Linked DNA regions of Homo sapiens: region 1 is linked to region 2. Evidence: fine-mapped expression QTL. Tissue or cell type: fibroblasts. Region 2 holds a variant in brackets; the other region holds the start of a gene. All regions are shown on one strand. Distances are from middle to middle.

Region 1 (8,104 bases), 72 kb after region 2:
TGGAGGGCAGGAAACATCCAGCACAGAAGAAAGATGTAGACTGGGAGGCTAGGCCAGTCTAGCCCCACTTATTTTTTTTTTTTTTTTTGGTGAGGTGAGTCTCTGTCACCCAGGTTGGAGTACAGCGGTGTGATCTCGGCTCACCGCAACCTCTGCTTCCTGGGTTCAAGCTATTCTCCTGCCTCAGCCTCCTGAGTAGCTGGCATTATAGGCATGCACCACAACACCCAGCTAAATTTTTTTGTATTTTTAGCAGAGATGAGTTTTGCCATATTGGCCAGGCTGGTCTTGAACTCCTGACTTCAAGTGATCCACCCGTCTCGGCCTCCCAAAGTGCTGGGATTACAGGCGTGAGCCACGGCACCAGGCCTAGTCTAGTCTTTTCACGTTTTTCTGCCTGCTTTATATTCTGGCCGCACTGGCAGCTGATTAGTTGGTGCCCACCCAGATTGAGGATGGGTCCGCCCTTCCCAGTCCCACTGACTCAAATGTTCACCTCCTTTGGTAACGCCCTCACAGACACACCCAGGATCAATACTTTGCATCCTTCAATCCAATCAAGTTGACACTCATTATTAACCATCACAAGGTGTGAGCCCTGCACCCAGCAATATATTGCTTTTTATATATTTATAGAAATTCAATTGGTTCTGTTTCTCTGGAAAATCCTGATCAATATACACTCCTTCATTTTTCTTATAGCACTGAATTATGGGATAAACCAGGTTGGTTGTCCTGTAGAATGTCCCACACTGTGATTTGACTGATGTTTCCCCATGATTTTAACTTCTATCTCCTGTGTTTCCCAATCAACCCACTTGGGTTTTTGTTTTTTCTTTTTGTTTTTAGATAGGGTGTCACTGTGCTGCCTAGGTTGGAGTGCAGTGGTACAGTCACAGCTCACTATAGCGTCGACTTCCCAGGCTCAGATGATCCACCCATCTCAGCCTCCTTAGTAGCTGGATCCACAGGTGCACACCACCACACCTAGCTAATTTTTAATTTTTTTAGAGATGGCAGAGGTGGGGGGGGTTGCGGGGGGGTCTCACTATGTTGCCCAGGCTGGTCTTGAACTCCTGGGCTCAAGCGATCCCCCTGCCTTGGCCTCCCAAAGTGCTGGGATTACAGGTATAAGCCACCGCACCTGGCCCCAAACAACCCACTTTTTTTATTCTCTCAGTTTTTGCCCTTATTTAATCCCCCACTCTTACTTCAGCCTCGTTAGGAACTTGAGTCTCTGGACCCCTCTACTTTTTCTCTGCCAATAAGCCCTTTCATAATGTTCGTCATCACTCCAACCACTCTACTTTTTAAAAATGGACTTTGTTGAGGAATAACATGCATACAATAAAATGCTTGTATTTAAAATGTACTTTTCAGCGGATTTTAATAAATACATACATCTGTGTAACTACCGCCACCATCAAGTCGCTCTCTTCTTCACAGCCCCCACTCTGTCTCCTCTCATCATGCTTTCCCAACCTACATCAATCCCTCAGACTCCCCCTCTCCTGGCACGCCTGGCTGCAGACCTGCAGGAGAGAACACACACGCCGACCTGCTGGAAACCTGTACATCAGTACTGCCCTCCCGAGGACCCTCGGTCTTTGTCCAGGCAGCAGTGCTCGCCCATGCTCCACAGCAGCTTTTTCTTTTTCTTTTTTTCTTGAGATGGAGTCTCGCTCTTGTTGCCCAGGCTGGAGTGCAGTGGCACAATCTCAGCTCACTGCAACCTCTGCCTCCTGAATTCAAGCGATTCTCGTGCCTCAGCCTCCCGAGTAGCTGGGACTGGAGGCGCCCACCACCACACCCAGCTCATGTTTTTGTATTTTTAGTGGAGACGGGGTTTCACCACATTGGCCAGGCTGGTCTCCAATTCCTGAGCTCAAGTGATCCACCCGCTTCAGTCTCCCAAAGTGCTGGGATTACAGGCCTGAGCCACTGTGCCCGGCCAGTAAGTTTCTTTTTTTCTTTTGAGACAGGATCTCCCTCTGTTGCCCAGGCTGGAGTGCAGTGGCATGATCTTGGTTCACTGCCACCTCAAATGTCTGTCTTTACCACTGTGTAGTAACAAATTTGGCCAGGAGTGGTGGCACATACCTGTAACTCCAGCACTTTGGGAGATCAAAGCGGGAGGATCACATGAGCCCAGGAGTTTGAGACCAGCTTGGGCAACATAGTGAGACCCTATCTCTACCAAAAAAATAAAAAAAAATTAGCCAGGCACGGTGGCATGCACCTGTCATCTCAGCTACTCAGGAGGCTGGGGCAGGAGGATTGCTTGACTCCAGAAGGTCGAGGCTGCAGTGAACTATCATCATGCCCCTGAGCCCCTAAATCCCAAATGATAGGAGTGTCCATCTTATTCATTGTGGGCTTCTCAGACCACTCCTGATGGTTTATGCTAATGAGATGACTTGGGATGGGCCCCTATATAGTTCATGTTAACAAGATGACTGAGGATGGGAACTGGCCATGCTGGAAACCAACGACCGAACACGACACTTGAGCTTTGTGGCTTTGAGCCCCACCTCTGGATGGGTCAGGGAGACTGGTGATTGAGAAAACAATCTCACTAGAAGAGTGAGAGATAGAATAGCCAGCACACTGCGGCCTCGATCTGAACCAGCTCAGGTCTTTCCAAACACTAGTGACATGTGGCTATCTAAATTTAATTAAAGCCAGGCGCAGTGGCACATGCCTGTAATCCTAGCACTTTGGGAGGCCGAGGTGGGCAGATCACCTGAGGTCAGGAGTTTGAGACCAGCCTGGCTAACATGGTGAAACTCATCTCTACGAATAATACAAAAAGTGGCTGACTGTGGTGGTGCATGCCCGTAGTCCTAGCTACTCAGGAAGCTGAGGCACAAGAATTGCTTAAACCCAGGAGATGGAGATTGCAGTGAGCCAAGATCCTGCCACTGCACTCCAGCCTGGGCGACACAGTGAAACCCCGCCTCAAAAAATAAATTTTTAAAAAATTAATTTAATTACAATTAAAACTTCACTTCCTCAGTCCACTGGCCACTTTTTTTTTTTTAATTTCCATTTTTTTTCTTTTATTGAGTCCACCACTGCGGCCTTGAATTCCTGGGCTCAAGCGATCTTTTTGCCTCAGATCCTGAGTAGCTGGGACACAGGCGCCTGCCACCACGCCTGGCTGCTGGCCACATTTCCAGTGCTCAATAGCTACTTGAAGCTTGTGGCTACCTTACTTGGGCAGCACAGATAGGGAAAGTTCTATTGGACAGGGCTGCCTACCTAGCCCTTTTTTAAAACGTCCTTTTATACTATTTTGTCAGATGGGGTCTCACTTTGTTGCTCAGGCTTTTCTCAAACTCTTGGGCTCAAGTGATCCTCCTGCCTCAGCCTCCCAAAGTAATTTGTAAATACGTGTAAATAATATAGTCCTCTCTTGTTGCATCAAAATGAATGCAAAAATGTCACGATGGGGCCGGGCGCGGTGGCTCATGCCTGTAATCCCAGCACTTCGGGAGGCCGAGGCGGTAGGATCACCTGAGGTCGGGAGTTGGAAACCAGTTTTCTGGTGCCTCCTTAACTTTTGCACTGGAGGGACAACGGAAGGGCCCTGTGTCATCCTCACCTCCCCCATCTGTGATTCTTCTGATGGTTAATTACCACTTTAAAGCTCTAGTTCTTTTTCCTTCACCTACTGAGAGTATATCTCCTTCTTTACAGTAACTTTTACTTTATAGAGTTTTTTTTGAGACGGAGTCTCACTTCGTCACCCAGGCGGGAGTGCAGTGGCACGATCTCGACCCACTGCAACCTCCGCCTTCCGGGTTCAAGCGATTCTCCTGCCTCAGCCTCCCGAGTAGCTGGGACTTACAGGCGCCCGCCATCACGCCCAGCTAATTTTTCAGTACAGACGGGGCTTCACCAGGTTGGCCAGGCTGGTCTCGAACTCCTGACCTCAGGTGATCCACCCACCTCGGCCTCCCATATTGCTGGGATTACAGGCGTGAGCCACCGCGCCTGGTCCCGTTTTGGCTATTCTTTAATATGCTTCCCTATAACTGCTATCTCCACACCAGCCTTGCCTTAGCTCATGGGAAACAAAACCAATTAGTTCCCCCATTACCTGCCTTGAGGAGCAGGGGTGGTGCAGTGGCATGCACCCAGGGAAGTGTGTTGTATGGGCCCCCAAGTGCAGAATCTGAATCTTGCAAAGGAAGAAACAAATTCGTCTCCACGGAGCATGTCTCCCCAGGACTCTCAGCCTTCCAAATCCGCAGTCACAGTGACTCAGCAGAATCTGAGCCTAGGGCACCACAGTAATCCGCATCCGGCTCTTTTTCTGCTCCATTTCGTGCCAAGGCTAAAAGGGCATGCCCACTTGATCCCTGGACTCTCTTGGGACGACTTCCACCCTGCATCCTCTTGCACCTCAGGGCACAGTGCGCAGATGGGCTTGCCTTAGCACCCCCAGCCAGATTTTTGAGGCCTCTGTCACACACACCCCTACAATCCCCTCCCCCAGCCCCGAGAGACTTTTCTTGACTTCCACCAGTTGCTCCGGCGGGTGAGAGTGGAGAGGCCCCTCCTTCATCCCCCAGGCTCCCTCCCTTCCTGGAGCTGCAGCCTCAGCATCCTCCGCCCAGCACCCCAGGATTCAGGCGTTGGGTCCCGCCCTTGTAGGCTGTCCACCTCAAACGGGCCGGACAGGATATATAAGAGAGAATGCACCGTGCACTACACACGCGACTCCCACAAGGTTGCAGCCGGAGCCGCCCAGCTCACCGAGAGCCTAGTTCCGGCCAGGGTCGCCCCGGCAACCACGAGCCCAGCCAATCAGCGCCCCGGACTGCACCAGAGCCATGGTCGGTGAGTGCTGCAAAGGGCGGGGTGCTTGGCGGTCGTCTCTCGAGCACTGGTGCCTGTGGAGGAGGTTGTAGGGGCTTGGCCCTGAATTTTGTTCCTTGACTCAAAACCCACAAAGGGAAGAGATTAGGGACCTGGGATGAGCCTTGATCGGACTCCGGGAGAAGGAGAGCTTCTGTTTGTATCCGGTGTCGCGGATCCTTCCTCACTCCACCCCACGAACTCTAGTGGGCATTTAGGAGAAACTTGACCTTGGAAGCAGAAATTCCCTCCAAAACTGTGGTCAGAAACTGGCCGTCAGAGGCCAAATCAGGCTTACGGTCACAGCCCATACCTCTTTTGGTCTATAGTATCTAAAACACTTTGAAATAAGTTGCTAACATTAAAATGGGTGATTTCACTTAAAAATGTGGATTCCGAGCTTCTGAAGAAAATGAGAATATCTGGCGATTGGTGGACAGGAGTGGAGGAAACTGATGCCTTTGGTTTGACGGAGACCAGAACCGGCTCCAGGCTGCCAGGCACAGGTTTTGTTTTGTTTTGTTTTGTTTTGTTTTGTTTGAGACGGAGTTTTGCTCTTGTCGCCCAGGCTGTAGTGCAATGGCGCTATCTCAGCTCAGCGAAACTTCCGCCTCCCGGGTTCAAGCGATTCTCCCATCTCAGCCTCCCGAGTAGCTGGGATTACAGGAGTGCGCCATCATGCGCGGCTAATTTTTATATTTTTAGTACAGACGGGTTTCGCCAAGTTGGCCAGCGCGGTCTTGAACTCCTGACCTCAGGTGATCCACCCACCTCAGCCTCCCCAAGTGCTGAGATTACTGACGTGAGCCACCGTGCCTGGCCTTGGGAGGCATTTTCCATTGAGGCCCTTGGATTAGGCAAACCTGATCAGATCGTACTGGATCCGTTTCTAGTATTGGGTCCACTTCAGTGATAGAGCCTTCCCACTCGGCCATCGACCCTAGGGGAACTCAGAGGTCACCCCAGCTCCACCCAAGGCATAAATAACCAGCTGAGACAACTGCAGGGATTGAGAGCTGTTTCCCAAATAATCTCACTCTGAGATTGGACAGTACTAAGATTTAGAAAGCTGTTGCCTCATCTGGGGCAGAATCCTGTGTTTTGTAATTTCCTTCCCTGTGGACCTGGTCCTGCCTCTAAAAATGCGCCTGTACACAAAGAAGCCCATCTTGGTCAAAGTGAGTGGAGGAACAGACTGCCCTTGCAGTTGACAAACTGAAATTATCAGGATCTCTGAGAAAGGGACTAAGCTGGGGATTGGTAGCCCAGCATGAGTTACTGGCAGAGACAGCAGGGAATAGATTCTGACAGCTGAGAGGCTTGCCGCATACACGGTGGTTGCTGTTTCCCTTGTATTTCATTCTTCAGCGTCGAGGCACTGGCACCCTCTCCTCCAATACTAGGGCAGGAACTATTTCCTGACTTTTCAATCTTACAGAATGTTCTGTATTTACGTGTAGCTTAAACACAAAAAAGGGCGGTGGTAATGAGGTGAAAAGGGAAGACTTGGATCTTGTATAATTAGTTTTAGCTGTACCCAGCTAACCAAATCTTGAGGTTAACTAAAGCATCCAGGTTTTTTGTTTGCAACTAATAGATGCATCTGATTTGCACTCATGTTCCCTGGAGCACTCAAGTGAGAAGAGAAGGCAGAAGGAGAATGCATGAAACTGATACAAAGGCTTATCTTTATCATACTTCTTTTTTTCTTTTTGAGACAGGGTCTTGCTTTGTTGCCCAGGCTGGAGTGCAGTGGCATGATCAGGGCTCACTTCAGCCTTGACCTCCTGGGCTCAAGTGATTGTCCCATCTTTGCCCCCGAGTAGCTGGGACTACAGGTGTGTGCCACCACACCCAGCTAATTTTTTTTGGTCAGAGCAGAAGAACTTGAAACCCAGCTAATTAAAAAAAAAAAAAATTTTGGCTGGGAGTGGTGGCTCATTCCTGTAATCCCAGCACTTTTGGGAGGCTGAGGCGGGAGGACTGCTTGAGGCCAGGAGTTCAAGACCAAGATTCAGCTCAAATGGCAAGCTCCTCTGAGGGCCTTTCCGAATGGGCCAGCCCTGAGGTCCTGAAGTTTTCCTCTGTTGAACTTTTTGAGATGGAGTCTCACTCACTCTGTTGCCCAGGCTGTAGTGCAGTGGCGTGATCTTGGCTCATTGCAATCTCCACTTCCCAGGTTCAAACGATTCTTGTGCTGCAGCCTCCCAAGTAGCTGGGATTACAGGCGCCCACCACCACGCCCAGCTAATTGTGTATTTTTAGTAGAGACGGGGTTTCACCATGTTGGCCAGGCTGGTCTCTAGCTCCTGACCTCAAGTAATCCACCCGCCTCGGTCTCCCAAAGTGCTACGATTACAGGCATGAGCCACCACACCCAGCCTTCTGTTGAACTTTGTCCCTTACCTCTCCTAACACACTAATGCCATTGTACCCTGAAGAGGTTATCCGTGTGTGCATCTTGTGGCCTCTCTCAGGGTAAACTCTAATAGTCTAACTCCTCCCAGGTCATGTTGCTCAGCTAGTTAAGTGGCAGGAAGGGAAAATGAACCCTCCAGGGCCCAGAAAACTTTTAAATTGCCTATTCACAAGCATCTTTTTGTTTGTTTGTTTGAGACAGAGGCTTGCTCTGTTGCGCAGGCTGGAGTGCAATGGTGCGATCTCGGCTCATTGCAACCTCCGCCTCCTGGATTCAAGCAATTCTCCTGCCTCAGCCTCCCGATTAGCTGGGATTACAGGCACCTGCCACTACACCTGGTTAATTTTTTTTTGTATTTTTAGTAGAGACGGGGTTTCACCATGTTAACCAGGCTGGTCTCTAACTCCTGACATGAGGTGATCTGCCCGCCTCAGCCTCCCAAAGTGCTGAGATTACAGGTGTGAGCCACCGCGACCCACCCACAACCTTCTTTTGATCATTTTTCTTTTGAGTTGTTTTGGGGATCTACCTATTCCAGGTACTGCACTTTGATGGTTATATTTGTTGCAAATATATTATTCCTGCTTGTGTGTTGCCTTACATGAAAAATTGTAAAGTCACAGGCCTGCTTATAGCTATTAGAGTCTGAGCTCCTTGAAAGAGCAAGAGATGGATATCCTGATTTGCTCATTTTCTGAGAAGTGCCTTGACTGTCTTACTACTTAGAAAATGCTTGTTAACATTGATGAGAAGTCAATAAAATAAAAACTGTTGGCTGGGCGCTGTGGCTCACGCCTGTAATCCCAGCAGTTTGGGAGGCCG
Region 2 (8,104 bases):
TATACTTTAAAATACTTCTTATTGAGAGGCCAGGAGATCAGAGCAAAAAAGTAAAAAATAAGAAAATAAAAATAATTCAGCCAAAAAGAAACAGGAAAAGCAAATCCATCATAATGTTAATAGTTATCAAATAGGAAAAAAAAAGGCTTTTTTTTTTTACAAGTAATATCCAATATATGCCAAGGTACAATACAAACCAGAAATTTCAGCCACTGCTGATGGGAAGGTAAATTGTACAGGTCTCATAAGTATTTATTTGAAATGCTTGGGACTGGAAGTGTTTTGGATTTCAGATTTTTTCAGATTTTGGTATATTTGCACATACATAATAAGATATCTTGGGCCAGATGCGGTGGTTTATGCCTGTAATCCCAGCACTTTGGAAGGCCAAGGTGGGCAGATCACTTGAGGTCAGGAGTTCGAGACCAGCCTGGCCAACATGGTGAAACTCCCGTCTCTACTAAAAATAAAAAAATTAGCTGGGCATGGTGGCAGGTACCTGTCATAATCCTAGCTACTTGGAAGCTTGAGGCAGGAGAATCACTTGAACCCAGGAGACAGGGGTTGCAGTGAGCCGAGATCGCGCCACTGCACTCCAGCCTGAGCGACAGTGCGAGACCCTGTCTCAAAAAAAAAAAAAACAAAAGGAAAGAAAAATCTTCTGACGCATGTTACAACATGAATAAGCCTTGAGGACATTATGCTGACTGAAATAAGCCAGTCATAAAAGGACAAATACTGTATGGTTCCACTAACATAAGCTACCTGGAAAAGCCAAATTCACAGAAGCAGAAAGTAGAGCGGTAGCTGCCAGGTGCTGGTGCGAGGGGAGGATGGGGGAGTCATGGTTTAATGGGACAGAATTTCAGTTTTGCAAGGTGAAAAGAGTTCTGGGGATAGATGGTGGTGATGGTTGTACAAGGTGAATGTACTTAACACCACTAACCTATACACCTAAAAATTATTAACGTGATTAATTTTACATCATGTGTATTTTATCACAACTAAAAATAAATATAGGCCAGGCACGGTGGCTCATGCCTGTAATCCAGCACTTTGGGAGGCCGAGGCGGGCAGATCACGAGGTCAGGAGATCGAGACCAGCCTGGCCAACATAGTGAAACCCTGTCTCTGTTAAAAATACAAAAATTAGCCGGGCATGGTGGTGGGTGCCTGTAGTCCCAGCTACTCGGGAGGCTGAGGCAGGAGAATCGCTTGAACCCAGAAGGCAAAGGTTGTGGTGAGCCAAGATCGCGCCACTGCACTCCAGCCTGGGCAACAGGGCAAGACTCCGTCTCAGAAAAAAAAATAAATAAATAAAAATAAATATATATTGATACATTTTTAAAGAGAAAAAGGCATATTGCAAAATAATATGTTCATGTATAATCTCAATTTAGTTTCATTGATGTCATAAACATCAATATACGTCTACAAATATAAAAAAAGATCAGAACAAGGATCTGAGGGGAAAAAATTATTTAAAAGATAAAATTTAAAAGCTCAAAAATGTATACATCAAAATGTTAACAGTAGTCAGGTATAGTGGTGCACGCCTGTGGTTCCAGCTATTCCGGAGGCTGAGGCAGGAGATGGCTTGAGGCTGGGAGTTTGAGGCTACAGTGAGCTGTGATCGTGCCTATAAATAGCCACTACACTCCAGCCTGAGCAATATAGGGAGATCCCATCTCAATCTAAAAATTAATTAATTGGCCAGACGCAGTGGCTCGCATCTGTAATCCCAGCACTTTGGAAGGCCAAGGCAGGCGGATCACTTGAGCTCAGGAGTTCCAGACCATCCTGGCAACATAGTGAGACCTACTCTCTACTAAAAATATGAAATACAGCCAGGCCATGGTGGCGTGTGCCTGTAGTCCCAGCTACTAGGGGTGGGGGCTGAGGTGGGAGGATCACTTGAGCCCAGGAGCAGAGGCTACGGTGAGCCGAGATTGCACCACTGCACTCCAGCCTGAGTGACAAAGTGAGAAACCTGTCTCAAAAAATATATATATATAAAAATAAAAATTAATTAATTAAAGTAAAATTGCTTTTTTTTTTTTTTTAAGACTTGCTCTGTCACCCAGGCTGGAGTGCAGTGGCGCAATCTCGGCTCACTGGAACCTCCACCTCCCGGGTTCAAGCGATTCTTCTGTCTCAGCGTCCTGAGTAGCCGGGATTACAGGCGCCCACCACCATCCCTGGGTAATTGTTGTATTTTTCTTAGTAGAAACAGGGTTTCGCCATATTGGCCAGGCTGGTCACGAACTCCTGACCTCAGGTGATCCACCCGCCTCAGCCTCCCAAAGTACTGGGATTACAGGCGTGAGCTACCACCCCCGGCCATAAAATTGCTTTTAAAAAAACATTAAGAATAACTATCAGGCTGGGTGCAGTGGCTCACGCCTGTAATCCCAACACTTTGGGAGGATGAGGCGGGCAGATCACCTGAGGTCAGGAGTTCAAGACCAGCCTGACCAACACAGTGAAACCTCATGTCTACTAAAAATACAAAAATTAGCTGGGAATGGTGGCACATGCCTGTAATCCCAGCTACTTGGGAGGCTGAGGTGGTAGGATCGCTTGAACCTGGGAGGCGGAGGTTGCAGTGAGCCGAGATTGCACCACTACACTCCAGCCTGGGCAACAGAGTAAGACTCCATCTCAAAAAAAAAAAAAAGAAAAAACAATAACTATTACTAGGTGCTGTGCTTAGGGGCAAATTTTGTTTTCTTTCTGTAATTTACAATTTCTACAAGGACTTTTGCTAACCAAAAGCAAAAGTATATTGGCTGGGCAAATGAAGAGGAAAAAAGGACCCTCATGCTGGTTGCTGCATCCTAATGTGAGGCTATCCACAAGTATATTTCCAAATATTGCAATAAATAGAATTCTCCCTGATGATCAAATTACAAAAGGCTGGCTAGGGTTTGGGAAAATAAACACCAATTCAGAAGACAAAGCAATCAGGGAGTTCTCTGCAGGATTAAAGTGGAGGCACATCTCTGGTTTTAAACAATTCCTCGGGCCAGTGTGGGTTCAGCACATCTCTATGTGCCCAGCCGAAAAGAAAAGACCAGAGGAGGCTCAAAGACCTTTCAAGTGGCCCATCGCTTAAAAGGACAGGCTTGGAGAGAAAAGAAAGACTCTTAAATCATGTAACACGCTCGCTGGGACGCAACTCTCCCCGCCCCCACCTCTCTCTTAAGCTACATCCACTTTCAGAAAATACTTTCCAGATATCAAGAGAAAAAGGAGCCTTTCTTTCCATGCCATTCATTCGCCACATATGGTACTGCTCTGAATAGAGGCCTTATGAAGGAGGGTCCAATACCACCGCCATGGGCCATGCCACTGACCACAAACAGCAATAAATAGATGAGGATTTATATGTCCGTGACGTAGAGGCACGTTGGCTAATTCAGATGGCGCGTCCATCACGTTCCAACATCCAGTAAATGTTTACTGAGTGCCGAGTAAGCACAGGGCACTATTTGTAATACTATCCCAGACACACACGTGCACACATGCACACAGGCATGCACACACACACATATACGTATACACACAGCTCCTTTGTTCTGTTTTAGGGCTGAGGCTAGAAAAGCAATGATTTAGGCTAGAGGTATTTGACAGTTTCATTCAACATATCACACATCTCCTGCAACGGGAAGAGGAGCAGAGGCAGACAGAAAGTTTCCAGTCCCTAAGGAAGGATAAAGGGCAACACACCACTGCATCACATTACTAGAGGCCCTGGACAAAGAGGGCTAAACTCTGTAGTGGAGGCAGAGAGGAGCCCTCAGCCTTCCCAAAACTCCAAAGACAGCATCCAAGGAGAACAGAGGTACTGCAGCCCCTAGTCCTGGGGGAAATTGCAATACCAGGTTGATCTGCCAGGTCCTCCCATCCCCACCCAAGAATCACGTCGGCACCCCCTTCATCATACGTACTTTTGCCCCCATTGTTCTTCAAGACGTTGGAGAGGTTGACAGATGCGGTGCCTAGCAGTTCATTTCTCAAGGTATGGCAGCTCCAGACCTTTAAATCTAAATGACTCTGTGCCGTGACATTCCTGAAAAACAAATACCTGATTCATTACATCCAAGCAGATCATTCCTATAACTTAGAAGAAAACATTTAAACTAAACTGCTGACATCTTGGGGAGGGGGAACCAAAA[C/T]AGGCAGACACCCACATATATCCTTTCCCCTCTCAAAGCTGACCCTGTAACCCTCTAGATAATAATGAACGCTCTATGAGCTCAATGGTGTAGGAACACCTAAAAAGAGTCACCTTGGGTACCATAGGTAGAAAAAGTCGGAGGTGCCACAGGGAATCTGTACCTCCCACAACCCCCTCGGAGCACCCTCTCTCTTTCCCCATCTTGCTGCGTTCAAAAAGAAGGGGCTTTCTCTTACAAAATGATGATCTCATTCCAGAGAAGCTCAGAGCTCCCAATGCGCTTCCCAGTCTTCTTGGTCTCACTGGGGAGTCCATCCACCGCCACCTCCACGTAGGAGTTAATTCGAGGTTGACGATTATGCACCTTGGGCTTTGCGGACACCACTGGGAGAGAAAGAAAGAAAAAGTCAAAGATGAGTCCCAGGGCTCCCAGATGCCCCCCTGTGGCAGATGTTCCGGCTCTTTTTAGTTATTGCTTTAAAAAATAAATCAATACATTTTGTTTTGTCTTGATTCTAAAAACTTTTTAAAGAAATGTGAGTACACACACCAAAAAAAATATGAAGTGTAAAAAAAAAAAAAAAATCCCTAACCTGAAACCACTGGGATAACTGCCAGTGATCATCATCACCAATTTATCGTTGGTAAATTGCCTTCCAGATTTTCATCTTTTATTTATTCAATTCTTTAAAAATTCTTCACCCCCATAAGTCACTCTTAAATGACTGCAATACAAGCCCATAATAGGTATATGTTAACTATTCTTTCATTGTCGAATAGACTGCTTGCAATTGTTCGCTCTGGGGAAATTACCGTGAACATATACATCTGCATGCCTTTCTTGAGTATTCCTCCAAAGGATACGAACACTTTTTAAAGTTCTTAAAACTGCCCATTCCTTTCCAAGAAAGGTAAACCCATGTAGCCTCCCATCAGTGCTACAGGAGAATATTCATTTTACCAGACATCACAGAGTGCTAAGGGATATGCTTGTTCACTTTTTGCAAATCCATGGGTTAAAAACGCATGGTGTAAAGACAACAGCTAAGGCCGGGCGTGGCGGCTCATGCCTGGAATCCCAGCACTTTGGGAGGCCAAGGTGGGAGGGCTGCTTCAGCCCAGGAGTTCAAGACCAGCCTGGGAACATAACAAAATTTATAATTTTTTTTTTTTTTCTGAGATAGAGTTTGGCTCTTGTTGCCCAGGCTGGAGTGTAATGCCACAATCTCGGCTCACTGCAACCTCTGCCTCCCAGGTTAAGCAATTCTCCTGCCTTAGCCTCCTGAGTAGCTGGGATTACAGGCGCCCGCCACCGTGCCTGGCTAATTTTTGTATTTTTAGTAGAGACAGGGTTTCACCATGTTGGCCAGGCTGGTCTCAAACTCCTGACCTCAGATGATCTGCCTACCTTGGCCTCCCAAAGTGCTGGGATTACAGGCGTGAGCCACCGCACCTGGCCAATTTATAAATTTTAACTGAAATAAATAAAGATAATATTTAAGATTTTATGAGTACTTATTAAAGACCCTCTGCCATGTGCATACATTTTCTAACTGAATCCTCACAACAAACCCATGAGGCAGGGAATATATCATCACCCCATTTTACCCAGGAGAAAACAGGCTTGAGAGGCAAGGTCACTCTCCCACTCTACATAGCCAGGGAGCTACAAGCCAGACTGTGCACCCGGCCGGTCTGATTCCACATCATGCTGCATATTATTATTGAACTTTACTTATTTGTTCTATTGCTGTTCTTCGATTACCAGCAAGGTTGAATATTTTTGCCATGTGTCGTTAGTCATCTACATTTCTTCTTCCGCTCATAGCCTTCATGTGGCAACAATTCTGATGTTCGTTTGGGACCAGCAAGCCAAAGACTCATGGAGTACAAAGCTACACAAGCATCACACCGAGGAGCTAGACAGACATCCTAGTGTATATTACCCCTGGTGGAAACGCCAGGTCGCTAGGGTAAAACACATCTAGACGTCTCCCATCCTGCCCCAAATCAGAGATACAACTGATGCTCCCTTGCCTGTAATGGCAAGTCTATCCTAGCCTGAGCTTCCCTGTTTGAGTATAAGCAAATCCCTCCCTCCCAGACTCTTCTGAAAGGTGACAGTCCTACAATGGTGTCTACAACTTGGCAAAGGCCAAATTCACCTTCAGATTTTTTATAGCAGTAACTATCTTCCTCTGGCCCCAAAGGAACAGAAGGGAGGAAGACAACAGATAAAAAATCAGCTGTGGCTAAGATTCAGAAGCGACAAGGGAACAGTACTAGGGACAAAGGTTTGTGGTACTGAGGCATGGCCCAGGGTAGAAAAATGAGGTGCAGTGATTTACACACGGACCAAGGTTAACTGAGGCCACCTGGTGGTAAGAGCATGAATCTACATGCCTTTAAAAAATAGGGACTACAAATGGTGCATTACTTAGGACGTTTGACTTTACAGGGGTGCGAAAGCGATATGCATTCAGTAAAAACTGTATTTTAAATTTTGAATTTTGGTCTTTTCGCAGAATAGTCATATGCGGTACTACTGGGCAGCGGCAGTGAGCCGCAACACCAGTCAGCCACGTGATCACAGGGGCAAACAATTGATACTCTGCCGTGTACCCCTTCACCAGATGATCTTGCCTAGCTGCGGGATATCGAAGTGTCCTGAGCACATTTAAGGTAGGCTAGGCTAAGCTATGATGCTCGGCAGATTAGGAGTATCAGATGCATTTTCAACTTGCGATATGTTCAACTTATGATGGGTTTTTCAGGACGTAACCCCACTGTAAGTTGAGAAGTATCTGCGCTCATACACATACACACTTTTTCCTGAAACTCTGAGAGTAAGCTCTAGACATTGTGCCCCTTTACTCCTAAATATTTCTGGGTGTATTTCCCAACAAACACATTTTTTAACATAACCAATAGCACAATTATCAAAATCAGGACATTTAACTTTTTATAATACTAATATTTAATTTACAGACTTTATTCGTATTTTGCCAATTGTCCTATCGATGCCCATCATCGCAAAAAAAAAAAGAAAGAAAAAAAAATTTGTTCTGGTCCAGGCCCCAATCTAGGATCATACTGGCATTTAGTACTCTTATTTTGAAGCAGGGCATGGTGGCTCACGCCTGTAATCCCAGCTCTTTGGGAGGCCGAGGCAGGCAGATCACTTGAGGCCAGGAGTTTGAGACCAGCCTGGGCAACATGGCTAAACCCTGTCTCTACCAAAAATACAAAAACTAGCTGGGCGTGGTGGGGCACAACAGTAGTCCCAGCTACTCAGGAGGCTGAGGCATGAGAACTGTTTGAACCCAGGAGGCGGAGGCTACAGTGAGCTGAGACCACACTCCAGCCTGGGTGATGGAGAGAGACTCTCACAAAAAAAAAAAAAAAAAAAAAAAAAACCTCCTATTTTTAAGTTTCCAATCTATAGAAAAATTGAAATAGAACAATAAATACTGTATACTCTTCACCAATTGTTATCATTTTGCCACATTTGCTTTCTGTTCTATGTGTCTATAGCATCACTACCCAAGAGAACTTCCATGATGACGAAAATGTTCCACATCTGTGCTGCCCAATACATTGCCATGAGACACATGTGGCTATTGACACTTGAAATATGGCTAGTGCAAATAAGGATATGATTTTTAAATGTTATATAATTGTAATTTAAGTGTAAACAGTTCTATGTGGCTACAGTGACTATTCTATTGGACACCAAAGGTTATAGATAAATGCCATCTATGTCTCTGTGTATGTGTGTGTGTGTGTGTGTGTGTGTGTGTGTGTGTATCCGCATTTTTTTTCCTAGGTAAAACCATTAAAAAGTAAGTTGTAGACCGGCTGGAGTGCAGTGGCACGATCACGGCTCACTGCAGCCTCGACCTACCTGGCTGAAGCGATCCTCCC

What was found. PIP is the estimated chance that this variant, and not a neighbour inherited with it, causes the effect.
Region 1: it holds the start of NQO1, and the variant in region 2 is fine-mapped to the expression of NQO1 in fibroblasts (GTEx, PIP above 0.99). The same link has a PIP of 0.9 or more in aorta, breast, esophagus mucosa, esophagus muscle, lung and sigmoid colon.

What each region holds. Positions count from the first base shown.
Region 1 is chr16:69,723,174-69,731,277 of GRCh38, reverse strand. It overlaps NQO1 (NAD(P)H quinone dehydrogenase 1), which reads left to right and starts at 4,718. Exons shown (of 6, transcript NM_000903.3): 1 at 4,718-4,845. The coding sequence starts at 4,839. NQO1-DT (NQO1 divergent transcript) reads right to left here and starts at 4,551. Exons shown (of 2, transcript NR_186363.1): 1 at 4,103-4,551. RefSeq lists enhancers at 3,249-4,242, 4,451-4,710, 3,957-5,156, 4,243-5,235.
Region 2 is chr16:69,795,142-69,803,245 of GRCh38, reverse strand. It overlaps WWP2 (WW domain containing E3 ubiquitin protein ligase 2), which reads right to left. Exons shown (of 24, transcript NM_001270454.2): 3 at 4,417-4,564; 4 at 3,951-4,072. Among named protein-coding and RNA genes, the nearest start is that of WWP2, 37 kb to the right of the region's middle. The variant C/T (reference allele first, on the strand shown) is at 4,179.